Homo sapiens: one gene and its partners. The protein of the gene in region 3 purifies or fractionates together with the protein of the main gene of each other region. This does not show direct contact. Each region holds a gene or a part of one and is shown on either strand. Other genes may lie near its edges. The genes, in order: SLC19A3, WARS2, NLN, RPIA, PFAS, OLA1 and ACOT13.

Region 1 (3,500 bases), on a different chromosome or scaffold from region 3:
GATGAAGTTACAGCCAGAATACAATAACTCCCTAGAAGTTGGTGGAACCACCTTCCAATTTTTATTTTATTTTATTATTTTATTTTATTTTATTTTATTTTATTTTTTTGAGACAGAGTCTCGCTCTGTCACCCAGGCCACAATGCAGTGGCACTATCTTGGCTTACTGCAGCCTCCACCTCCTGGGTTCAAGAGATTCTTGTGCCTCAGCCTCCCAAGTAGCTGGGAGTATAGGAACCCACCACCATGCCCAGCTAATTCTTTTGTATTTGTATTAGAGACGGGGTTTCACCATTTTGGCCAGGCTGGTCTCGAACTCCTGACCTGAGGTGATCTGCCTGTCTCAGCCTCCCAAAATGCTGGGATTAAAGGCGGGAGCCACCGCGCCTGGCCACCACCCACTAATTCTGACTGCAGCAGAACGACGGTGGTTAAGCAAGACCCTGGAATCCTTTCCCCTGCCTTCCTTCAGGACCATCTTGCCCTGACTTAAGCTGACTGCAGCCCTTTGCTTTATTTGAATGTTTTACTGAAAGTTATATTCTCTTCTATTTTAGTAATAAGCAGATTAAAAGGCATAATTAGTTTGTCTGCTCTGATATGTCAGCTAAAAGCAAATATTTTTGTTTTTAGTAATCAGACTTTGAGTTTGCTCTGTCTAGGGAAGGGCTTGACTCTAGCAGTGTTGAAAGCCTGGGAGGTGGGCTTTTTGGAAACTGTAACTGATATAACATAAAATGTATTTGGTCTTTAAGCTAAAACTTTTGGGAATTCCTGAGTAACAGGTGTCTTTTTATTCATAATGACCCTCTTTGATAACGTGTTTATGCTAATAAGATAGCTTGGAGTGGGGTCCATAGATAGTCTAAAAACTGGGGGGGAAGGAGCTGAAGATCATGCTCTGTAAGATTCGTTTTTCTTTTTTTTAATATTTAAAGAGATGGGGTCTCTATGTTGCCCAGGCGGGTCTTGAACTGGCTAATTTTTATATTTTTAGTACAGACCGAGTTTTGCCATGTTGGCCAGGCTGGTCTCGAACTCCTAACTTCAGGTGATCCACCCGTCTCGGCCTCCCAAAGTGCTGGGATTACAGGTGTAAGCCACCGCACCCAGCCTTATTTTGTATTTTTGTAGAGATGGAGTCTGGCAAACATATAATTACCAATTTATTGCTCTTCTGTTTGAAAGAAGTGTTTTGACTGCAGTAAAGTTCTAGCCTATTGTGAAAATCAGGCTAGCCCATTTCTCAGATGGCTGCCTGGCTAGACACCCTCTCTGAGATGGCTGGAATGATTAGTAGAAAGGAGTGGGCAGGAAGTAGGTGGAGAGTGGGGATTCTAGATCAGGGGTCCTATGGCCTGTTAAGAACGGGCCATTACAGCAGGAGGTGAGTGGCGGGCAAGCAAGCATTACCACCTGAGCTCCGTCTCCCGTCAGATCAGTGGCGGCATTAGATTCTCCTGGAAGTGCAAATCCTACTGTGAACTGTGCATGCAAGGGATCTAGGTTACGAGCTCCTTGTGAGAATCTAATGCCTGATGATCTGAGATGGAACAGTTTCATCCCAAAACCATTCCCCCTAACTCCTCCCCCATTTTTTCATGGAAAAATTGTCTTCCATGAAACGGGTTCCTGGTGCCAGGAAGGTTGGGTACCACTATTGTAGATAATTTCCTTCCAAATTACTGGCATCTGGGTTAATTCTGGCAGTATTGTCAGTACAACATGGACGAGGACTTGATAAAGTGATTTCTTTCCACCCACCCAATATCTTGTTCTTCTCCAGGCAGTCAGTTGTGGGAAACTTATCAGGTTTGAGGGAGTTACTTGCTTTCATCAGGTCACCTTGTCCCCTACCTCAGGGAGCCCCACAGCTCTGAGTGCTTTGGCTGTGGGAGAATTCCATCCTCTGGGTGTGCAAGTGGGTGTGTATGGGTGGAGGAATCTGACCAAATAAGGCTTTACCTTAGCTAGAAAATCACCCTGGCTTCAGGAAACCCACCAGTGCATGCCAGCTTTGCAGTTCTTTTGTTGTTGTTGTTTTTGGGACAGAGTCTCGCTCTGTCACCCAGGCTGGAGTGCATTTGCTCAATCTTGGCATTTGCAACCTCCACTTCCCAGGTACAAGTGATTCTCGTGCCTCAGTCTGCCAAGTAGCTGGAATTACAGGTGCCCGCCACCATGCCTGGCTAATTTTTGCATTTTTTAGTTTGAGACGGGGTTTCACCAATGTTGGCCAGGCTGATCTTGAACTCCTGACCTCAAGTCATCCACCCGCCTCAGCCTCCCAAAGTGCTGGGATTACAGGCATGAGGCACAGTGCCCGGCCTCAGTTTCTGCAGTTCTTGCTTTTTAACAGTTGTTTACCCTACAAAAATGGAAAATATACTTGGAAATATTTGTGGACATAGGGCTTTTAAGTATATGCACTTAGAGATAGATACAGACAACCTATGGATTAGGAAATAGGACACTATCCATGTCTGAAATTTAAATAAGGTCCAAATTAGCTTAGATCCAATATGATTCCCCAATGCATATATGAACAATACGTGAACATTGTTGTGTGCACAACTATGGAAAGGTCTTAATCCGCACAGTGACTCTGAGATAAGACTCACTGAAGGAAATACAGCAGCAAACCCAGGAGATGTGAGTTCCAATCTTCATTTGTAACTCACTCCAAATGAGATCCTAGCAATGAAGTAATTTTTTTTTGTTTCCCACTAAAAACAAATAAACAAAAACCTTAGTTTTTCTATGCTACAGAATTAGGATGACAAATGAACTTATCTTGCAGTCACTATAAGAACACTGACAGTTTCAGAGATAGTATTAAAAATCAACTAAACACTTATAATTATTGTGAAAGCATTTATCTATCAAAGAAGGTTAGCCTGCAGCCAGTTGGAAAGTTTTTTTTGTTGTTTTTTTGGTTTGTTTGTTTGTTTGTTTGTTTGTTTGTTTGATAGAGACAGGGTCTCACTATGTTGCCAGGCTCTCCTGGGCTCAAGCAATCCTCCCGCCTCAGCCTCCCAAAATGCTGGGATTACAGGCATGAGCCACCGTGTCCGGCTGCCAGGTGGAAAGAACAATTTAAGGAGATGGTTAAAAGTGGAAAAGCCAATAACATGGTAATAATTGAAATAAAAGAAGAAAGAAAAAATTGAACTCTGATACAAAGAGACTACAACTGTGTAATAGGTTGCATAAAAAGAAATTTTGCAAACATGTAATAGGTTGCAAGGCAGATAAAAACAAAAATCATGAGAAGCCACTCCTGCCAAATTCATTCATAGTCAAAATACAAGTTAACTTTTGTGGGAGATTAAAAAAAAGAAAACTAAGAGCATTTTAAAATGAAGTAGGATTAGGTATGCTAGCAAGAGAGTTTTTTTCAAAAGGCTGTGGCACCCCACGTACCCCAAAGAAGGGGAGCCAGCAGTAAACAATGTGGCCTTATGTGGAATACATGGCAATGGGCTCCAAATACAGATTCA
Region 2 (3,500 bases), on a different chromosome or scaffold from region 3:
CACCGCAGCCTCCACCTCCGCCTCCGGGTTCAAGAGATTCTTCTGCCTCAGCCTCCGGAGTACCTGGGATTACAGGCATGCACCACCACACCCAGCTAATTATGTATTTTTAACAGGGACCGGGTTTCGCCTTGTTGGTCAGGCTAGTCTCGAACTCCCGACCTCAGGTGACCCGCCCACCTTGGCCTCCCAAAGTGCTGCATTACAAGCGTGAGCCAATGCACCTGGCCAACATTCACTTATTGACCTTAGAAGAAGAGAAACCACTCTGGGTCTGCTGTCATGGTCCTTACATTTTGCCTTTCCATTGATTGTTCTGTTCTTGTTTTCCTTAAATTAAAAGAGCTCTCAGAATTCCTGTAACATACCATTTATATTTTGGGATTACCTGATCAGATATGTGAACTGTCAGTTTCAAGTAAGTTTTCTATGCATATCAGGATCACTGCCCAGGTCTGTGACTATCTCTGGGATTATGCATTACTATTTGTGGTATGTCAGCTCTGAAAAAGGAAAATGATCTGGTGTGAAAAAAGTCAGTGTACCCCTCATCAAGGTTCTCTATAGTATCTTTATTTTACCATTTGTCCTTCATTTTACCTTTATTTGTCCTTCATCATGTCAGATATTAATGAATATATAGTTATATATTATATCAATAGCAACCATTTATTGAGCTCTTACTATCAATTAGTATACGTGTTATCCATGAAAGAGCTATATGAGGTAAGCTCCATGATGAACCTCACTTTACAGAGGAAACGAAGGCTTAGAAAGGGTAAGAAACTTGCCTATGATGGCTCGCTGCTTTTTTCACAGGAGCAATATTGTTTCTTTGATTAAAAAAACCTCAGCGCACTGTATTACTTGTATTATCAGGTATAAACTCCCAGCCAAGCATTGCATGTATAAAATTGCCTGTTTTTTAATCCCGCCATATTGCTTCAGTATAAAATTTTCCTCATCAAGACTTCTCTATAATGGTTCATTCTTCCCTTATTTGATGTACTATGTCATGATCTGACACTGCAAACTTTACATATGGGATTAAACTCATGATGAAGTCATTCCCTATATTCTGATATTTTTGGTTTCACATCTTCATTTCTTCATAATATGAAATATTACAGATAAAATTCAAGTCTCCTTTGTTCTTTTCTTCAGATCTATTTCCTTTCCACCTTCTCTAGAAGCAGCTACAATTACAAATTTGGGGAGGAGCTTCCAGTATGTTTTTTTACTTATTATTACAGATATATTTCCATAGGCACTTGTAAAATTTACGTAAATGTCAGTGTATTTCATGTTTTCTCCAACTTGCTTTTTTCATCCCACATAGTTTTTGATAGCCATCTACATTGTACTTATAGATTTTAAGTTCTCTGCAACATATTAATTGTCCTGTGATTGCAATGTACTTGAAAATGAAGCTTACTCCAAAGAATATTGAATTACTCCCTATGTGACAGGGAGGAAAAACTCTTGCCTGAAGAACTTTCTGCTGCCTTTGATTTGAAGAGTGGGGTGGGGTGTCTTTCAAGTATGAGCTGTAGTTCTGAGGTAAAGAGCATCTGGTCAGGGCTGGGAATAATATGTGCTGACTGGGTGAGGGAATGAGGAGTAGTTTTAAAACACAATTGTGCCTAGAGCATATGCTATTTAAAATCCCATTCCTCCCTCCCAGCAAGATCCTGTCATGCTGGTGTTGATGGCTGTATTCCCCTGCTGTGGAAAAAACACAACTAGAGTAGAGAAACATCTCTTTGGCTTTTGTCTGATCCATAGATAAAGACTTAGGTCTAAACATTCCCTCTATAGTTGGTGAACATTTGTTGAATACCAACAGTGAAATATTCACAGGAAATGCAGCTGCTTGCAATATCATTTCTGTCTCTAAGAAAGAGCCTTGCTGTTGTTTTTCTGTCTGTCTTTTATTAAAGGTCCACACACGTTCCTGTTGGGGAGGATCAAGTCCAGCACATGGAACTAGTTCAGGATCTAGCACAAGGTTTCAACAAGAAGTATGGGGAGTTCTTTCCAGTGCCCGAGTCCATTCTCAGTAAGTAAGAAACTTATAATTGTTACATCAGGGTATATTCTAAAGAGAGGATTGGACAATAGATAGGCTTGGAACTTTCTTGGGACTAACCTCAGCTTTCTTGTAGACAGGCTTCAGGATCTGTAACTAGAGTCCTCATTGTTTTCTCTAGTGTAGGACTAGAAAGTAGACTACGTTGGATTCCTGAAAAAGATGTTGGATTATTGAAAAGGATAACTAAAAATATTTTAAAAGTATGGAAGAGACCAAAAATTTAAAATAATATTTATAAAGTAGTATATAATTTATGAAGTATGAACAGATGCTTCTTGACTTATAATTGGGTTACATCCTGATAAAGCCATTGTAAGTTGGAAACACTGTTAATCAAAAATGCATTTAACACACATAACCTACTGAACATCACAGCTTAGCCTAGCCCACCTTCAGCGTGCTCAGAACACTTACATTAGTCTATAATTGGGCAGAATCATCTAACACAAAGCCTATTTTATAATAAAGTATTGAATATCTCATGTAATTTATTGAATACTATACTGAAAGTGAAAAACAGAATGGTTGTGTGGGTATTTCAAGTACAGTTTCTACTGAATGGATATCACATTTGCACCACTGTAAAGTTGAAAAATCATAATTCAAACCATTGCAAGTTGGGAACTGTCTGTGTGTACATCTTGGTGATCTGTTTGTTTTGTTTTTGTTTTGGGTATGTGTGTGTTGGTGTTTTTAACCTAGCATCCATGAAGAAGGTAAAATCCCTACGTGATCCTTCTGCCAAAATGTCGAAATCAGACCCTGACAAACTGGCCACCGTCCGAATAACAGACAGCCCAGAGGAGATAGTGCAGAAATTCCGCAAGGCTGTGACAGACTTCACCTCGGAGGTCACCTATGACCCGGCTGGCCGCGCTGGCGTGTCCAACATAGTGGCGGTGCATGCCGCGGTGACGGGGCTCTCCGTGGAGGAAGTGGTGCGCCGCAGCGCGGGCATGAACACTGCTCGCTACAAGCTGGCCGTGGCAGATGCTGTGATTGAGAAGTTTGCCCCAATTAAGCGTGAAATTGAAAAACTGAAGCTGGACAAGGACCATTTAGAGAAGGTTTTACAAATTGGATCAGCAAAAGCCAAAGAATTAGCATACACTGTGTGCCAGGAGGTGAAGAAATTGGTGGGTTTTCTATAGGAAGTTTCAACGAATCACAGCAAGGCTTTTGTGCCTTGCACTCCATGCATTCTGATAACGGCAGCTTTCCTAAAAAGAAAAAGTTATAGTTTTGGGACATTTAATTTGGTATAGCTGATTATTGGCTTTATTTGATGAATATTGCTTTGTAGCTTTGAAATACGACAGTGTTCCAAATCCCATCAACAAAATGCTGTGAACAACAACAACAAAAAATAAATCAAGAAGGCATAGCTGTCTGAATCCCCAATTATTGA
Region 3 (3,500 bases):
ATTCAGTGAGTATAATTCCTAAACAAAAATTCAGGAGTTGTGGTCTGGAAACCAAAAAGTTATTTGTTGTCTGATGTGAAAATTTATTTATATGGAAAATCTTAGAAAGTCAGACAAATTCAATTACAGTTTTCTTGGTGTTTTTGTTTGTTTGTTTGAGACAGAGTCTCACTTGGTTGCCCAGGCTAGAGTGCAGTGGCATGATCATGGCTCACTGCAGCCTCGACCTCCCGGGCTCAAACGATCCTCCCACTTCAGCCTCCCGAGTAGCTGGGACTACAGGTGTTTGCCACCACACCCGGCTAATCTTTGTATTTCTTGTAGAGACAGGGCTTCGCCATGTTGCCCAAGCTGGTCTCTAATTCCTGGGCTCGAGTGATCTGCCCGCCTCAACCTTCCAGAGTGCTGGGATTACAGGCATGAGCTACTGGGCCCAGCCTAAATTACAGTTATTAATAAACTTAACAATATTTACAGGTCTAAGTGTAATTAAATAAAATTGAGATTATTCCTCTAAAACCAGTAGGCATAATCTCCAAAATGTTAAGAGAACAGTATTGGGGAAAAAAATCTAGTAAAGAAAGGGTTTTTTAAGTTAAAGTATCAAGAGCTAGGTTGACATTATTTGTACAAATGGATTTGGTTATAAAATAGGTTTTCTTTTCTTTTTTTTTTTTTTTTTTTTTTTAGGATGGAGTCTTGCACTGTTGCCCGGGCTGGAGTGCAGTGGCACGATCTTGGATCACTGCAACCTCCGCCTCCTGGGTTCAAGTGATTCTCCTGCCTCAGCCTCCGGAGTAGCTGGGATTACAGGCACCTGCCACCACGCCCAGCTAATATTTTGTATTTTTAGCAGAGACGGGGTTTTACCATGTTGGCTAGGCTGGTCTCGAACTCCTGATCTCATGATTCACCCGCGTCGGCCTCCCAAAGTGCTGGGATTACAGGCGTGAACCACCGTGCTCCGCCGAGGATTGATTTCTTTCTTTTTTGTTTGTCCTTTAACCCTGGTTTTGGTCAGAAGCAACCTGGTTCTTTCTCAGAGTTAAACATTATCACCTCTTTGGTTAAGACAAAGCACAGGACTTACTTGGGAAGAATCCCCTGAATTAAAGATATGAAGAACCAAGGAAACTGATGTGTATTGAATACATATGTAAATGCCAAGCTGCCGCATTGCAAAGTGCATGTAGCATCATAGAGTCGACTATATAAATCTAGAAACAGCTCGCCTGAGTTTGAATGCTGGTTTTGCCACTGACTAGCATTGTGATCTTAGGCAAGAATACTTAAGTTCTCCGTATCTGTTTCCTCCTCAGTAAATTGATAATTGATTGGCTGATTTCTTCATTCACCAAATATTTATTGTCTATTATATGCGAAATAGTATTCTTGGTCTGGGGATATAGCAATGAACAAAGCAGATAAAAATCTTTGCATTAATGGAACTTACATTCCAGTGGGAGAGACAACTAAGGAAAATATAAAGTAAGTTAGATGGGAAAATGTGCTGCAGAGCAAAAGTAAAATGGGAAAGGGGAATGCTCAGTACCGATAGGAAGGAAATTGTAGAGTCAACAGGAAAGGCTACCAAGAAAGTGATATTAATACTTGAGTAATGATCTAAGAGAAATGAGCAGTTGTGCTATGTGAATACCTGAGGCAGGTCATTCTAAGCAGGAGAAACGGCACACACCAAGGCTCTGAAAGCAGGGCTATGCCTGGTGTTTTTGAGAAAGTAAAGAGACCATTGTGACTAGCATGGAATAAATGTCAGGCAAGTAAGTAGGAGATGAGACAGGGAAAAATTGGACTCATCCTTTTTTTTCTATTTTCTTCTTTTTTTTTTTTTGTTTTATTCGTTTGTTTTTAGATGGAGTCTCACTCTATTGCTCGGGCTAGAGTGCAATGGCGCAATCTCAGCTCACTGCAACCTCCTCCTCCTGGGTTCAAGCAATTCTCCCACCTCAGCCTCCTGAGTAGCTGGGATTACAGGCACCCGCCATCATGCCCAGCTAATTTTTGTATTTTTTGTAGAAACAGGGGTTCACCATGTTGGCCAGGCTGGAACTCTTGACCTCAAGTGACCCACCTGCCTCTGCCTCCCAAAGTGCTGGGATTACAGGCGTGAGCCACCGTGCCTGGCCTGTACTCACCTTTTAAGATTGAAACAAATATAGAACACTTTGAACATTGCCTGGTTATATCCATTCCTATTACCACAAAAATGCTGTATAACAAACTGAATTTCAGTGGAGTACAATGATCAATGTTTATTTTTGCTGACAAATCTAGATTTTGGCTGGGCAGTTTTTCTGATCTTAACTCATTCATGCTCCTTCAGTCAGCCATGGGTTGTGTAGGCAGCTCTGCTGATCTCTGCTATCCTCTCTCACATGTTTGGTGATGTAGGATGGCCACAGCTGGGGCTATTTGGCCCTCTTTCCTGTGACGTCTCGTCCTCCAAGAAGCCACCTCTGGCTTGTTCTCATGTCAGTGGCAGGGTTCCATGAGAGAGTGGAAGGCAGTTGGAACTGGAACCTCATTAGCTCTGCCACATTCTACTGGTCAAAGCAAGTCACAAGGCTAGCCCAGATTCAAGAAGTGGGGAAACAGACTCTATCTCTTGATGGGTAGAACAGCAAACTCACATTGTTAAGAGACATAGACTCATAGCAGGTAGAAAATTGAGGCCATGTTAGTTATCAGTCTACCACATCGGCACATAATAAAATCTCGAGAAATATTAGTTACTGTTTTTACTTGTGTGAATTGCCTAGTTTTATTTTGGGATTTTTAAAATTAGGATTATTACTTTGTAAGAGCCCCTCATAGATGTTTCAGTTGTTTTTGATCTTTGAACTTTTGGGGTAGATTATTGTTGCTTTTTGCTTTTTTGCTTTATCCCTACAAAAGTTTAAATTTTTATACAGTCAGAAATATCAGTCTTTTCCTTTATGATTTCTGCCTTTGGTCTCATTCCTAGAAAGTCCTTCTCCACCCCAAGATTATGTATTTTAAAAATCACCTACATTTTCTTTTTTTTTTTTTTTTTTTTTTTTTTCAGACAGAGTCTAGCTCTGTCACCCAGGCTGGAGTATAGTGGAACAATCTCATCTCTCTGTAACCTCTGCCTCCCAGTCTCAAGCAGTCCTCCCACGTCAGCCTTCCAAGTAGTTGGGACTACAGGTGTGAGCCACCACACCTGGCTAATTTTTGTATTATTTGTAGAGACAAGGTTTCACCATGTTGCCCAGGCTGATCTCAAACTCCTGGGCTCAAGCAATCCTTCCACCTCAGCCTCCCAAAGTGCTACGATTACAGGCATGAGCCACCACACCCAGCATCTACATTTTCTTCTAGTACTTTTATGTTTCATTTTTCACACTTAAACCCTTTATCTATCATGAGGGCTGACTTTTTTAAAAAGACTTCTTCAAATTATTGAGTGAAACAAAAAGGAAATCAACACCGAAACTGCAAAACTGCAAGAAGTATAA
Region 4 (3,500 bases), on a different chromosome or scaffold from region 3:
TTTGTTGGCAGTTTTTTTAATTACTGTTTCAGTGTCGCTGCTTGTTATTGATTTGTTCATAGTTTCTGTTTCTTCCTGCTTTAATCTAAGAGGCTTGTATATTTCCAGATTTTCTAGTTCATGCACATACAGGTGTTCATAGTAGCCTTGAATGATCTTTTGTATTTCTGTGGTATTGGTTGCAGTATCTCCCATTTCATTTGTAATTGAGCTTATTTGGATCTTCTCTCTTCTTTTCTTGGTTAATCTCACTAATGGTCTATCGATTTTATCTTTTCAAAGAACCAGGTTTTTGTTTCATTTATCTTTTTTGTATTTTTTGTTTCAATTTCATTTAGTTCTGCTCTTATCTTAGTTATTTCTTTTCTTCTGTTGGGTTTGAGTGTGGTTTGTTCTTGTTTCTCTAGTTCCTTGAAGTGTAACCTCAGATTATCTGTACTCTTTCAGAGTTTTTGGTTTAGGCATTTAAGGCTATGAGCTTTCCTCTTAGCACTGCTTTTGCTGTATCCCAGAGGTTTTGATAGGTTGTATCACTATTATTATTCAGTTCAAATAATTTTTAAATTTCCATCTTGATTTCATTGTTGACCCAGAGATCATTCAGGAGCAGATTATTTAATTTCCATGTATTTGTATAGTTTTGAGGGTTCCTTTTGGAGTTGATTTCCAATTTTATTCCACTGTGATCTGTGAGAGTACTTGATATAATTTAGATTTTTTAAAATTTATTGAGACTTGTTTTGTAGCCTGTCATGTTGGAGAATGTTCCAGGCTGAAGAAAAGAATATATATTCTGTACTTCTTAGGCGGAAAGTTCTATAGATATCTGTTAAGTCCATTTGCTCCAGAGTATAGTTTAATTTCATTGTTTCTTTGTTGACTTTCTGTCTTGATGACCTGTCTAGTGCTGTCAGTGGAGTACTTAAGTCTCCCACTATTATTGTATTGCCATCTATCTCATTTCTTAGGTCTAGTAGTAACAGTTTTATAAATTTGCGAGCTTTAGTATTAGGTGCATATATATTTAGAATTGTGATATTTTCCTGTTGGACTAATCCTTGTATCATTATATAATGTTCCTCTTTGTCTTTTCTAACTTGTTGCTTTAAAGTCTATTTTGTCTCATAGAAGAATAGCTACTCCTGCTTGCTTTTGGTTTCTGTTTGTGTGGAGTATCTTTTCCCACCCCTTTACAGTAAGTTTATGTGAATCCTTATGTGTTAGGTGAGTCTCTTGAAGACAACAGATACATGGTTGGTGGATTTTTATGCATTCTGCCATTGTGTATCTTTTTATTTTTTTGAGACAGAGTTTCACTCTTGTTGCCCAGGCTGGAGTGCAATGGCATGTTCTTGGCTCACTGCAACCTTCACCTCTCAGGTTCAGGCAATTCTCCTGCCTCACCCTCCTGAGTAGCTGGGATTACAGGTGCCCGCCACCATGACTGGCTAATTTTTTTGTGGTTTTAGTAGAGACGGGGTTTCACCATATTGGCCAGGCTGGTCTCAAACTCCTGACCTCAGGTGATCTGCCTGCCTTGGCCGCCCACCAAGCCTGGCCCATTGTGTACCTTTTAAGTAGAGCATTTAGGCAGTTTACATTCAGCGTTAATATTGAGATATGAGGTATTATTTTATTCATCATGGTAGTTGTCTCCTGGATACCTTGTTTTTTTGCACTGTGATATTGTTTCATAGGTCCTGTGAAATTTATGCTTTAAGGAGGTTCTATTTAGGTGTATTGTGAGTTTTGTATCAAGATTTAGAACTCATTTTAGCATTTCTTGTAGGACTGGCTTGGTAGTGGCGAATTCTCTCAGCATTTGTTTGTCTGAAAATGACTGTATCTCTTCCTTATTTATGAAGCTTAGTTTTGCTGGATACAAAATTCTTGGCTGATAATTAATTTGTTTAAGGAGGCTAAAGATAAGACCCCAATCCCTTCTGGCTTGTAGGGCTTCTGCTGAGAAATCTGCTGTTAATTTGATAGGCTTTCTTTTATAGGTTACCTAATGCTTTTGCCTGGCAGCTTTCAAGATTCTTTCCTTTGTCTTACTTTAGATGACCTGATGACTATATGCCTAGGTGGTGATCTTTTTGCAATGAATTTCCTGAGTGTTCTTCAAGCATTTTTATTTGGATGTCTAGATTTCCAGCAATACCAGGAAAGTTTTCCTCAATTATTCCCTCAAGTAAGCTTTCCAAACTTTTTGATTTCTCTCCTCTCCTTCCTCAGGAACATCAGTTATTCTTATGTTTGATTGTTTAACATAATCCCAAATTTCTTGGAGGCTTTGTTCATTTTTTTGATTCTTTTTTTCTTTGTCTTTCTTGGATTAGGTTAATTTGAAAGCCTTGTCTTCGAGCTCTGAAGTTCTTTTTTTCTACTCGTTCTAATCTGTTGTTGAAATTTCCCAGTGTATTTTGCATTTCTAAAATGTGTCTTTCATTTCCAGAAGTTTGATTATCTTTTCTTTATGATATCTGTTTCTCTGGAGTCCTTTTAAATTTTCTTTAAGTTGGTTTTCACCTTTCTCTGGTACCTCCTTGAGTAGCTTAATAATCAACCTTCTGAATTCTTTATCTGGCAATTCAGAGATTTCTTCTTGGTTTGGCTCCGTTACTGGAGAGCTAGTGTGATCTTTGGGAGGTGCTGTAGAACCTCGTTTTGTCGTATTACCAGAATTTGTTTTCTAGTTCCTTCTCATTTGAGTAGACTGTTTCATTGGAAAGATCTGGAACCCAAGGGCTGCTGTTCAGATTCTTTTGTCCAATGGGGTGATCCCTTGATGGGGTGTTCTTCGCCTTCCCCTAAGGATGAGGATTCTTGAGAGCTGGACTGCAGTGGTTATGCCCTTCTGGGGTTAGCCACCCAGTGCGGCTACTGGGCTCCAGGCTGGTATTGGGGAATGTCTGCAGAAAGTCCTGTGATGTGATCTGTCTTTAGGTCCCCGAGCTGTGGATACCAGCACCTGCTTCGGTGGAGGTGGCAGGAGAGTGAAGTGGACTCTGTGGGAGTCCCTGGTTGTATTTTTGTTTAGTGCACTGGTTTTCTTGAATGCTGGTTTATGCTAGCAGTGAAGTTGCCATGTGGACAGACTCAGGATCTCTGGTTAGCCAGGATGTTGCAGGCGGTGGAATTAGCTGTTGTTTTTCCCTTTTTGGAGCAGGGTTGTTCTGTTACGAGTTTCTGTAGTGGCTTGAGTTGGTTGGCCTTCAGCGAGGAGGTGGTGCTTTCAAGAAAGCATCAGCTGTAGTAGTATAGGGGGGATACAAGCTTGTCTATGTAGGCCAGGATAAGTATTTTGGTTTCTTAGGTAATGGGCAGGGCCATAGAGCTCCCAAGAGTTTATGTCTTTTGTCTTTGGCTACCAGGGCAGGTAGAGAAAAACCATCAGGTTAGGGCAGAGTTAGGTGGGTCTGAGTCAGACTTTCCTTGGGCAGGGCTTGCTGTGGCCACTGTGTGGGGTTGGGGAGTGGTTCTCAGGTCAATGGAGTTAT
Region 5 (3,500 bases), on a different chromosome or scaffold from region 3:
AGGCATGTGACGAGGCCTCCGTCACTGACATCGTGGCCTGAGCAGAGGAGGCGGTCTGGAGGAAGGAGAAGAAAGCTCAGCAACCTCGGGACCCAAACCTGACAGCCCCACCCCACCTTCCGGAGTCAGTCCATCAAGAGTGTGTGTCAGAATGTCAGGGGATCTGGGGTACATCGTCCATTGGAGTCCCTTTTGCCCCACTGCTCAGATGGTGAACGCCTGCTGCACGCCTGGCACCCTGTGCGCTATCTCCCCAGGGGTCTTCACTCACCTTTCAGCAGCCCCTGAGTGATGCTGAAGGCCCGCACCAAGTTCTCAGGAAGGTCCAGGTCTGGAGGGTGTTCCCCAAGCTGGGAGAAGCACTGGGCCAGAGCTGTGCCCCCGAGCCGGTGCTGCCCAGGGCTCAGAGCCACATAGAGCAGATGGCCTGGGGAGACGGGGAGGGGTGAGGGGAGGGGAACAGCTCAGGAGGACCCATCCCTGAGGGGCTCACAGCACTGCTATTCCCAGCATGTGGTGAGACACCTAGACAATCAGTCCCAGAAAACACCACAGCCCAGTGTTGAGATGGGGGCCCAGCACTCACAAAGCAGGAGCCAAACAAAGATCACACAAGCAAAGATCACAAAGGATGGGGCCATGTCCATACCTCTCCCTTCAGGATGCTTGAGGTCTGGGGTCACAGTGGCTGTGATGTCTGGGCAGACGGCATAGGCTGAGATGACCAGTGACCCTGTAGAGCAAGGAGGAGTCCAAAGGAATGAGTTGCCAACCCAGCTCCATAGTTCCTCCTCCCCTCCCTGGGGCTCCCACACCTCACCAGGAGCCCGCACGGTCTCAGTGCCAACCCGAGCAGCCATGCTGAGGGAGTCCTTGCCACCATCCACTGCCACACCCAGGGCTGCCATCACTGCCACCATAGCCTCACAGGCATCCGCCAAAGCTGCGCCCTCCCCTGGGAGCTTGGCTGCCCACATCCAGTTCCCGCTACACTTCACATCCTGGGGGTGGCAGAGGCACAGCATTAGAGGGGAAGAGAAATGTGGAGAGGCCAGGGGTGCAGGCGGACTGGGAGGTTGCAACATGAAATGAAGGGCTACAGATGGATGTGGAAGGGTCCTGAAGCCCGGGGGCTCCAGGATAGAAGCTGTGGGAGAACTCACCCGGAGGTCAGTGACCAGAGCAAACACCAGGTTGGTGAGGGCTTCGGCCACGGCCAGCCGGGCGGCGACTTTTGGGTCCAGCAGGCTCTTGACTGGCTGTTCTCCCAAGGCTGTGGCAGCCCCTATGAGCTCCTCATGGCTCAGTGCCACAACCGCTACATCTGCCAGAGGAGTTTGCAGGGGCCCCACGCACTGCTGCTGGGCCACCAGGCCTCCCACAGAGCGGTCCACCTGTGGAACCAGGTGGGGTTAGCAAGAGAGCAAGGGACAGGGACAGCCTGAGCTCCCGCACATGCCCCCAAGGCACTCAGGGCAGTGGGAGGCCTGTCTTTCCCCCAATGCAGACAACAGCTCTACTTAGAAGGTGGGTAGCAGGGAGACCAGGCCATCAGGGTGGCTGCCCTGCCCCTGCTGCTTCCTGCAGGGCCAGGCAAAAACCCCCACAGCACTTTCTAAGGGTGGGAGGGCAGAAGAGGCTGAGCGGAGGAAGGAGGCAGGGGGCAGAGGAAGGGTGCAGGGAGGACCTTATTGGTGAGGTAGCGCTTGCTGGCCACGGCGGGCAGCCTCAGAACCCTCTCCAGAGCCTGGTGCACGCTCAGCCCTGGGGGCAAGGCCAGAGGCTGCAGCATGGGGGGCTTCCTCTGCAGGAAGAACTCCTGCAACACAGACAGCGACAGGCAGTGTGAACACCTGGGGCGGGCTGGGCACACAGGCGACAAAGTGCACGTAGGGTAAAGGGTGGTGTGGAGAGGACCACAGGAAAAACCCATCCCCTCAACCCCACATACCTTCCGAGGCATCTTGCCCAGCACCCATTCGAGCTCCAGGTCCACAGGGGTTGGCAGGGGTGTCGGGGGGGCATCCCCCTGGCCATTTCTTCTGACAGGACACTCCCGATCGTCCACCAGCACTATCTATAGACCACAGGGACCCCACCCAGAGGGGATGAGACTATGAACACCAGCAAGGAATGTTCCTAGAAATCAGGGCACAAATGTGCTTTCCACTCCTTGTTTGGTTTCCATATTGAGTCCCTGCCCCTCCTTGGATCCAACATTCCCCACAGCTTGTTTGCCACTACCTCCCATCTTCCTCTCGTCTCTCTCCCTTGACAGCTCTCCCTCTAGCCCATACCCAGGTGGCTCATGTCTGCCCCAGTGTTTGCTCCCAACTCCCTGGGCCAACTCACTCTCCGGTCTCCAGTGATGGTGCCCACGAAGCAAGCCGGGCAACGTTCACGGGCACTGACATGAGTCAGGAAGTCCCGGTTGGGGGACCTCAGCAGAAGAGCATTTGATTCCTGGTACTCAGCCCCCCAGATTTCCAGGGCATTCAGGGTTGGGTCCCCAAGCTGCACAGCCACGGCGGGGAGGAAAGAGAAGGGCCAGTGGGCACTCCCACGTCTCATGTTGTTGCAAGAGAGATGGGTGGAAGCGGGCTGGGGCTGGCAGGGGTGGGAAAATGTCACACTTCAGGGGACGAGACCCACCTGGAAGCGGCTGGTGTAAATGATGGCTCCAGCTGGGTCACTCAGCTCTTTTAGGACATTGCCTGGTGAGAGGGTTGCAAGGAGAAGCAGTGACCTAGTGGTGGTCAGGCAACAAAGGGCAGTCCCTGGCCTCCAAAGGGGCCTGTAATTTGGTGTGTTCCTGTGTCAACTGCTGCCGCACCCTTACCACCAATCATCCCACGGCAGCAGGCTTCCACCCTTCCAACCCTGAACCTGTCTAGAATGTACAGAGCATGGAGAATGGGACCCAGAGCTGGGTGGTTGGTTGGAGATTCCTGATACCTCTCCCTAAACGAAACCTGGCAGGATACCAGGCAGGCCCAGTCTCTTGTTCCAACTCCTTTCCTCACCATTGCCACCAGCGCCCTGATCATGAAGGCTGCAGATGGGGTTTCCCTTGGGGGCCTCCACACAAGCCCTGATCACACGGTTCATCTTCTGTTCCATCTCCGGGTCTCCTCGCTGCACAGCCCCAAAGTCCAGGTCACTGGTGTTATCTCCCTGCACCTGGGGGCATATATGGCATAGCTCAGCTCAGCGAGACTGGAAGCTCCTATACGCTCCCCTATGCCTGGGGCCCGGTTATATCAAGGATTCTGCACCTTTAGCAATTCCCACTCACCTGCACAGATGAAGCAGCTCCACCTCCAACTCCAATCCTGTAGACGGGACCTCCAACCTTTACAACTTCCATGCCTGTAAGAAGGGAAGGCAGAATCAGAACACTGGGGAAGCCACGAGAAGAGGCCTCGAAAGCAAGGCAGCGTGAACACAGAGGAAGCTGATGTTAGGGAGAAGCCTGACCAGCTTTTTTTTTTTTGAGATGG
Region 6 (3,500 bases), on a different chromosome or scaffold from region 3:
AAAACCTCATCTGTAATGACTAGCTAACCGCCACCATGACAAACTTCAAAGTCAGTGATATCAATCTGAATTCAATAGTGTGGAACTGGATATAGCTGATGAATAAGTATGAATCTTACCCTGATGGTCCATGCACGCACTTCATCTGGGCCTGCAGTGAAAAAGTATTCTAGTTGGAGTGCTGCAAACCCAGCCTTAATGATCTTTGGCAAAGCACTGAAATCAAATGAAACAAATTCACCCAACACATAAGTTGATTGTGCCAGAAATTGGTATAGAGCTAAAATTATTCATTTCAAGCAGAAAATGTTAAAGATAGTAGTAAATGACCATTCATCTTTCAGAATACACTGGAAGGGTTCAGAAAGCAAGTAACTGTTTTTAAAAACCTCTCTTCTAAAATTGGTTTTAATTGTATTAGCCTGAAGATATTATTTTGAATTGTTTGCTATTTAAAAAAAGAAAAATTATGACTATTTTCATCCAAAATTAATTATTTCCAGGACCTGGCCATAAAAGCAAAATTATTTGATTGAAATCTGATATTTAAACAATATATTACTGTTACTCAGAAAAAATTATGGCAACTGATTCACCCTTTCCCCTCCCCCACTGAACATGACGAAAGAGTTTTGGCGATCATTCCTTCTCAAAAATATACATAACTAATACCTATGTTATAATTAAAACACTGTACGGAGATGACAGATGACAGTTAAAAACTTAATTTAAAATAAATCTTTTCACTCTGTCTCATGGTAAAGAAAGGAGAAGATTCCCTCTTTATAATGGTAATTACTCTGTCATTTATTATTCTATCAGCGCAAGCAATTAAATTACTGCAAGGAAATAGTTGATAATAAAGTGTAGGGAAAATGAATGCTAATTAACCTTTGTGTCATGTTCGCTTCCAGATACTTCTGTCTCTCCTCAGCACTCAATTCTTGCAACTTGAGTTCCAAGGCCCCACTAAAAGGAATGACCAAAGCACCTGGGTCATACTTGTCCACCCACTCTTTAATTTTTATCAACCTGTAGACAAAAAAGGGCACAACATTATCTTGTAGTGCATGCATGACTGTACCACATTCATTATTATCAAGTAGCACATACATATTCATAAGAATTGCACGGTTTTATGATGCCATCTTTTTGTATATAGCTTTCCAAGGTCAAGGCATTAACAGGCAGCAACTGCTTCAGGTATACGCCATAGTATTTTACTGTAACCTAGTTTTACTTTAGCACATTATCTATGGAAACTATTATACAAATATTTAAAAACTTTTTTTAGTTACACTAAAATTGTTCAGCATTAACACCTGTACCCTTGAATAAAGCTTCCATTTTATAATTTTTTGTTTTCCTTACTTTACAAAGTAAATTTTTAAAAGAAGACATAAAGTTCTGTTTGTACAGGAATCATACCTAAAAATACCAGCTAATTCTGAAGAGCCCTTCACAAATAAATAATTTGTTCCAGCCAGATATCTATATGCCTGGTTTAGTTCCTTCATGGACTAACAGAACTCACAGTGGTCACTAGTTTTGAGGAAGCTTTTTCCTAGCCAGAACAAGCACGTGCAGAAATACAGATTTACAAATATGGTTGATCACGTACGCAGCTGTATGAACCTGACTTTTGTGAGAACAAGAATAATAGAACTGCAGAGGAAAGAAATTCCTTTAATCACAAAGGATTTGGAAAGCCAAATCAGTTAGGAAACTGATCCTAGTTGTTACCTGAAAAGACATTATTGAGTCATTTTTTTTCCTTCCAAAGCATGGAGTATTTGGCAAAGTAGTAATTAGAACATAAATGAAATAAGTGTAGTGAATATATTAATTAGGTTCAGAGCCTAACACTTTCCTAGCTTTTTATTACTGGGCAGGTTACTGAACGTTTCTAAGCCTCAGTTTCCTCACTTGTAAAAATAGAGATAATAATAGTACATATTATATTGTAAGGAACCTAGAAAAGCCTGCAAATAGTAAAGAATTAACAGCAGTTACTATTATTAATTTTCCTTCTCAGATAATCATAGCATACATTCCTATGAATCTGGAACTGAGTTTAGTGTGAGACTATACATTCCATTAAAATTTTTATAAAATTATGCTATAGGCTTACATAATTCCACTAGACTGCTATATTTAGACAAAGGTTTTAATAGTTATTATGGCAAAATGCTGTGGCAGAAGTCCTTTAAATAATTAATGTAAATGCCACTTTAGGGGAAAAGAAAAACAAGAACTAAGTCACAAATCCATCAATGGCAGGGGAGCAGAGTTATTAGAAAATTAAGACTATGGCCCATTGAGCAGGATTTAGGATGGGAGAAAGGAATGAAAAACAATCACACAAGAGTTTGTATATGTTTGTTATACAAAGGTAACTACTTATTTAGTATGTTATTTGTGGTTTTCAATCTTCATAATAGTATTTTTTCTTTTGTTCATATCCCAAAAAATGGACCAAGTCCTATGATTTATGTTGCCTTTAACATAAAATTCAAACTAGATGTTTTCTTAACCAAAATTAAGAAGGACAGGTTAAAAAAAAGGTGGGGGGACTGAAATTGGTGCTTCTGTCTCCGTTAACATTATGGTATTCTAAGTTACTTCACAGACTTACACTATTCAAACAAAAGTCTATATTCAAATGTTATCATCAATGGTTTAGTAACTTACTTTCATTATACAAGTTAAAATCAAATATGTAATTTTAAAAAAGCAGATCACATACCAAATAGATTCAATGAAAGTGAAATAAAACAAGCCCATGTAAAAGGAGAATATAAAAATATCATACACACTTTATTTCATAAATATGGTCAACAGAACTAATAAAACTAGAACTGTTATGAAACAACAAGATAAGAAATAATTACTTTAGCTAACACATCAATTCAGAATAACAATAGTCCTACCCTGTCATTTTAACAGCCTTTCCTGCAGAGTTCTCAGAGGGATTATTTGCATTCCTCAGGTGTTCTATTGTACAATTCAAATGAATAAAGACTTACAAATCATTCCTCTACCGCCAATGTGAGACTTTGATCTGGTGAATACACTATTGTACCTTAACTATAATTGGCAAAAAACCTGACAGTGTAGAGCATCACAAGCTTAATAACAAAGGAGAATATCTCAAAGTGTTGACAGATGATCTTCATAATGCAGAAGCAGAGCTGGTACATTTTAGCAGTAAATGAGCACTGAGGTCTAAAGGTCTCTAAAGTGACTGACATCAGACCTGCTATAGCCTCACTAAAAGAAAAAGGTACCGTAGCACTCTCCCGTAAAGTGAGTTAGGCTCTTTGCCTGCCAGCTTCACTTTTGTGACTTTCACTGTCATAGAAAACACAGGGAAGATGAAAAGTGAGTGAGGTTCTTTGGCTGTCTGCTTTACTTTTGTGACTTTTACTATCAAACAAAAGTGGGAAATGTCCCAAAATGATTTTTAATTACATCTATGAAATAAACCTAGGGTAATTAAA
Region 7 (3,500 bases), on a different chromosome or scaffold from region 3:
CAAACTGTATTCCAAATCCCTTCTGTGTGATAACTGTCTAAACAACTGAGACTAAACACATTTATATTATTAGTAACGCATGAGATTCAATTAGCTGCTTATCTCCTTAACTGCACCTATAGATTTTGTCCTAAAATATTCCAGCCTTAAAATCTAGAACTAGAGCAGTTAATTTGCAAGTACAGTGTGTATCAATAGTAAAAAGGGAATGATCCCAAACATTCAAAAGAGCAACATTCAGCTTTTAATGTGTATACTGATGCAGGGGGAAAAATCACAAACTGATGGCTCATAACTGTTTCATACAGTCCTTAAAAGTGCCATTCAGGGCCAGACGCAGTGGCTCACGCCTATAATCCCAGCACTTTGGGAGGCCGAGGCAAGAGGATTGCTTGAAGCCTGGAGTTCAAGACCCCCATCTCTACAAAAAATAAATATTATTTAATTTTAAAAATACCACTTATAACACTATGAGGATTGTATTGAGTACATACAATTCAAAGTAAAGTTAGAGTTCATATACACATTATAATCTTACTCTAACAAACTGAACACCATTGCTGGGGTTTTTTTTTTTTTTTGGACACGGAGTCTCCCCATCACCCAGGCTGGAGTGCAGCGGCACAATCTGGCTCACTTCAGCCTCCGCCTCTGGGGCTCAAGTAATTCTCCTGCCTCAGCCTCCCTAGTAGCTGGGATTACAGGTGTGCGCCACCATGCTGGGCTAATTTTTGTGTTTTTAGTAAAGACGGGGTTTCACCATGTTGGCCAGGCTGGTCTTGAACTCCTGACCTCCAGTGTCCACCCACCTCAGCCTCCCAAAGTGTTGAGTTTTAAGAATGGGCAGCAATCCTGGATCTCTCCCTGTGACTACACAGACATGTTCTGTGAGTTAAACTACATGATCAGGGAACAGTGCCCCTCAGGGTCAAACTTCCAAAATGTAAGAAACTCAATTCCAACATAAACTGGTACTACTGCAGCCCCATTCAATAAAGAAAGAGCTGGGCACAGGGATTTAGTTTCAAGACAACTGCTTTTTCCACCTAAGCAACAAAAATGTAACTAACTGAGAGGTCAGGTTGAGAGAGCCATTGTGAGTAGATATGAGGGTAATGGAAATAATGTAGGCTTTTTTTTTTTTTTTTTTTGAGACGGAGTCTCGCTTTGTGGCCCAGGCTGGAGTGCAGTGGTGCAGTCTCGGCTCACTGCAAGCTCCGCCTCCCGGGTTCACACCATTCTCCTGCCTCAGCCTCCCGAGTAGCTGGGACTACAGGCGCCTGCCACCATGCCCGACTAATTTGTTTGTATTTTTAGTAGAGATGGGGTTTCACCGTGTTAGCCAGGCTGGTCTCGATCTCCTCACCTTGTGATCTGCCCGCCTTGGCCTCCCAAAGTGCTGGGATTACAGGCGTGAGCCACCGCGCCCAGCCAATGTAGGCTTTTAAGGAATCTAAATATTTTATCAAGTTTACTTAAGAAACATTCAGTCCCTCTTCATGGGAATAACTTAAATTGAGGGTACAATAAGCAAATTACAAGATGCAGCCAAATGCTCTTTTTGAAATTAAGATGTACAGAAAAGAAAGGCTCTGCTTATGTTACTGGTGTGCATATTCAGCAGTCCTTATTTCATGTGGTAAGAGGTGAGATCAGTAGATGACTTGATTTTCCCTAAAAGTCTCTATTAAGAGCAGAGAGATCTTCAAACCTAGCACTGCATTTCATGATCTACTAAGGTACTTTTGCCTTTAGAACCCTAAGGAATTTTCAGTAAGTCAAACATAGTTTTGGCCTTTCAAATATGTGTTGCCAAAAGCATTGGCCATCAAGAGCTGCCTACGCTTCAAAAACTGATTCACTTCAACAAAAACTAGGACATGGTCTTTCAAAAGTTAGAGATATTTCAAAAGTAAATGAATAATGTTTCAGTCAGTTAACACTTCATGATTCACTCTTTGATTTACTTGACATGGTACCAAATTTACTCCACCCCTGCACATCAAGTCCTATATTATACAGACTGAGGATGCCTGTTAGACTGTGACTTAGGTTAAAAACAAGCGAGGTTCCAAAACAACAAAAGGGGAAATTTTAGAGTATTACTGACAAAATGTCAATCTCCAAATTCCCCGGACTTAATGTTTACTCATCTGTAGCACAAAGGGTTCCTTATCTTCCCTCAGTTTAAGTTAATGGCTGTTAGCCAAAATTCTTGATTTCTAAGACAAAATTTAGGGAAATAATAAAAACTGGCCAAACTACTACTAAACATACTATTTTTCATTTCTTTACATTGAGGTATGTGAATTAAAGACAAGCCTGTTCTTTCCAGCAATAAGATCCACCTTTTTTTTTTTTTTTTTTTTTTTTTTGTGAGATGGAATCTTGCTCTGTTGCCCAGGCTGGAGTCCAGTGGCGCGATCTCGGCTCACTGCAACCTCTGCCTCCTGGGTTCCTGCCATTCTTCTGCCTCAGCCTCAAAAGTAGCTGAGATTACAGGTGCCCACCACCATGCCTAGCTAACTTCTGTATTTTTAGTTGAGACGGGGTTTCACCACGTTGGCCGGGCTGGTCTCGAACTCCTGCCCTCAGGTGATCTGCCCACCTCGGCCTCCCAAAGTGCTGGGATTACAGGCTTGAGCCATCGTGCCCGGCCAGATCCACCTTTCTTATACCTCCTAGCCATAAATACTGAAGTCTTATTTTGAATATGGCAAAAATACATATCCTTTTTAAAGGTTTCTTTCTAAAAAGCAGAAACATAAAAATAAACTGTAAGGAAATTATTTCCCTTTAAAACATTAACATTTGTTTTAAACAATCCTCATCTCCCCAATTTTTTTTTTAATTAGCTGGAGCCAGCTGAGTTAAAGACAACTTATGATTACAAGTGACTAGGATGTACATCTCTTAAAAATATAGACAGTCCATCATCAAGATTGTAAGGACATCATATCAATTCCTTATAGTTGTTATATTGTCATTTTAGAGTCAAATAAATTGTAAATATGGATAGGACAATATACAGACACCAAGTGATATTTCATCTAAGAAGTTAAGGAGATTAAATGAAAGCTGGAGGAAATCTTTCACCAGCCCCAAATAAATGTGAAGTGGGAAATGTAAAGGGAAAAAAGGGGAGGCAAGAAAACCTCTTCTCACATATTTGGGAAAAGAAACTTGTGTGGGTAAGGAATGGGTAAAATAGAACCTGGTTAGGACCAGCCATTCACATTTGATAGTACAGAAAGCTTACCAATACTACCGTTAAAACTATTTTTAGGAGTAAAATAAGTTACATAGGAACACTGTTGTGAGATGCACACAACTTTCCCTTTGAAAAATTATCTGCTGTTAACTATATTCATTTTCTTTCAAGGTACATGTCACCTGCAAAATTAGGAGAAGATATAGTGATTACAGCACATGTTCTGAAGCAAGGAAAAACACTTGCATTTACCTCTGTGGATCTGACCAACAAGGCCACAGGAAAATTA

The links.
Region 1: the proteins of NLN (region 3) and SLC19A3 fractionate together in Homo sapiens (co-fractionation; one large-scale study listed by BioGRID). This does not show direct contact.
Region 2: the proteins of NLN (region 3) and WARS2 fractionate together in Homo sapiens (co-fractionation; one large-scale study listed by BioGRID). This does not show direct contact.
Region 4: the proteins of NLN (region 3) and RPIA fractionate together in Homo sapiens (co-fractionation; one large-scale study listed by BioGRID). This does not show direct contact.
Region 5: the proteins of NLN (region 3) and PFAS fractionate together in Homo sapiens (co-fractionation; one large-scale study listed by BioGRID). This does not show direct contact.
Region 6: the proteins of NLN (region 3) and OLA1 fractionate together in Homo sapiens (co-fractionation; one large-scale study listed by BioGRID). This does not show direct contact.
Region 7: the proteins of NLN (region 3) and ACOT13 fractionate together in Homo sapiens (co-fractionation; one large-scale study listed by BioGRID). This does not show direct contact.

What each region holds. Positions count from the first base shown.
Region 1 is NC_000002.12:227,708,029-227,711,528, reverse strand, and holds part of SLC19A3 (thiamine transporter 2), read left to right. Parts: intron 1-3,500. UniProt on the Homo sapiens protein: Mediates high affinity thiamine uptake, probably via a proton anti-port mechanism. Has no folate transport activity. Mediates H(+)-dependent pyridoxine transport.
Region 2 is NC_000001.11:119,032,654-119,036,153, reverse strand, and holds part of WARS2 (tryptophan--tRNA ligase, mitochondrial isoform 1 precursor), read left to right. Parts: intron 1-1,940; coding exon 1,941-2,059; intron 2,060-2,765; coding exon of another isoform or gene 2,766-2,794; coding exon 2,795-3,243; 3' UTR 3,244-3,500. UniProt on the Homo sapiens protein: Catalyzes the attachment of tryptophan to tRNA(Trp) in a two-step reaction: tryptophan is first activated by ATP to form Trp-AMP and then transferred to the acceptor end of tRNA(Trp).
Region 3 is NC_000005.10:65,728,705-65,732,204, forward strand, and holds part of NLN (neurolysin, mitochondrial), read left to right. Parts: intron 1-3,500. UniProt on the Homo sapiens protein: Hydrolyzes oligopeptides such as neurotensin, bradykinin and dynorphin A. Acts as a regulator of cannabinoid signaling pathway by mediating degradation of hemopressin, an antagonist peptide of the cannabinoid receptor CNR1.
Region 4 is NC_000002.12:88,743,673-88,747,172, forward strand, and holds part of RPIA (ribose-5-phosphate isomerase), read left to right. Parts: intron 1-3,500. UniProt on the Homo sapiens protein: Catalyzes the reversible conversion of ribose-5-phosphate to ribulose 5-phosphate and participates in the first step of the non-oxidative branch of the pentose phosphate pathway.
Region 5 is NC_000017.11:8,262,789-8,266,288, reverse strand, and holds part of PFAS (phosphoribosylformylglycinamidine synthase), read right to left. Parts: intron 3,370-3,500; coding exon 3,296-3,369; intron 3,181-3,295; coding exon 3,024-3,180; intron 2,715-3,023; coding exon 2,653-2,714; intron 2,515-2,652; coding exon 2,353-2,514; intron 2,078-2,352; coding exon 1,952-2,077; intron 1,820-1,951; coding exon 1,688-1,819; intron 1,395-1,687; coding exon 1,164-1,394; intron 1,002-1,163; coding exon 821-1,001; intron 734-820; coding exon 650-733; intron 428-649; coding exon 272-427; intron 56-271; coding exon 1-55. UniProt on the Homo sapiens protein: Phosphoribosylformylglycinamidine synthase involved in the purines biosynthetic pathway. Catalyzes the ATP-dependent conversion of formylglycinamide ribonucleotide (FGAR) and glutamine to yield formylglycinamidine ribonucleotide (FGAM) and glutamate.
Region 6 is NC_000002.12:174,081,033-174,084,532, forward strand, and holds part of OLA1 (obg-like ATPase 1), read right to left. Parts: intron 1,033-3,500; coding exon 892-1,032; intron 217-891; coding exon 120-216; intron 1-119. UniProt on the Homo sapiens protein: Hydrolyzes ATP, and can also hydrolyze GTP with lower efficiency. Has lower affinity for GTP.
Region 7 is NC_000006.12:24,698,077-24,701,576, forward strand, and holds part of ACOT13 (acyl-coenzyme A thioesterase 13), read left to right. Parts: intron 1-3,382; coding exon 3,383-3,500. UniProt on the Homo sapiens protein: Catalyzes the hydrolysis of acyl-CoAs into free fatty acids and coenzyme A (CoASH), regulating their respective intracellular levels. Has acyl-CoA thioesterase activity towards medium (C12) and long-chain (C18) fatty acyl-CoA substrates.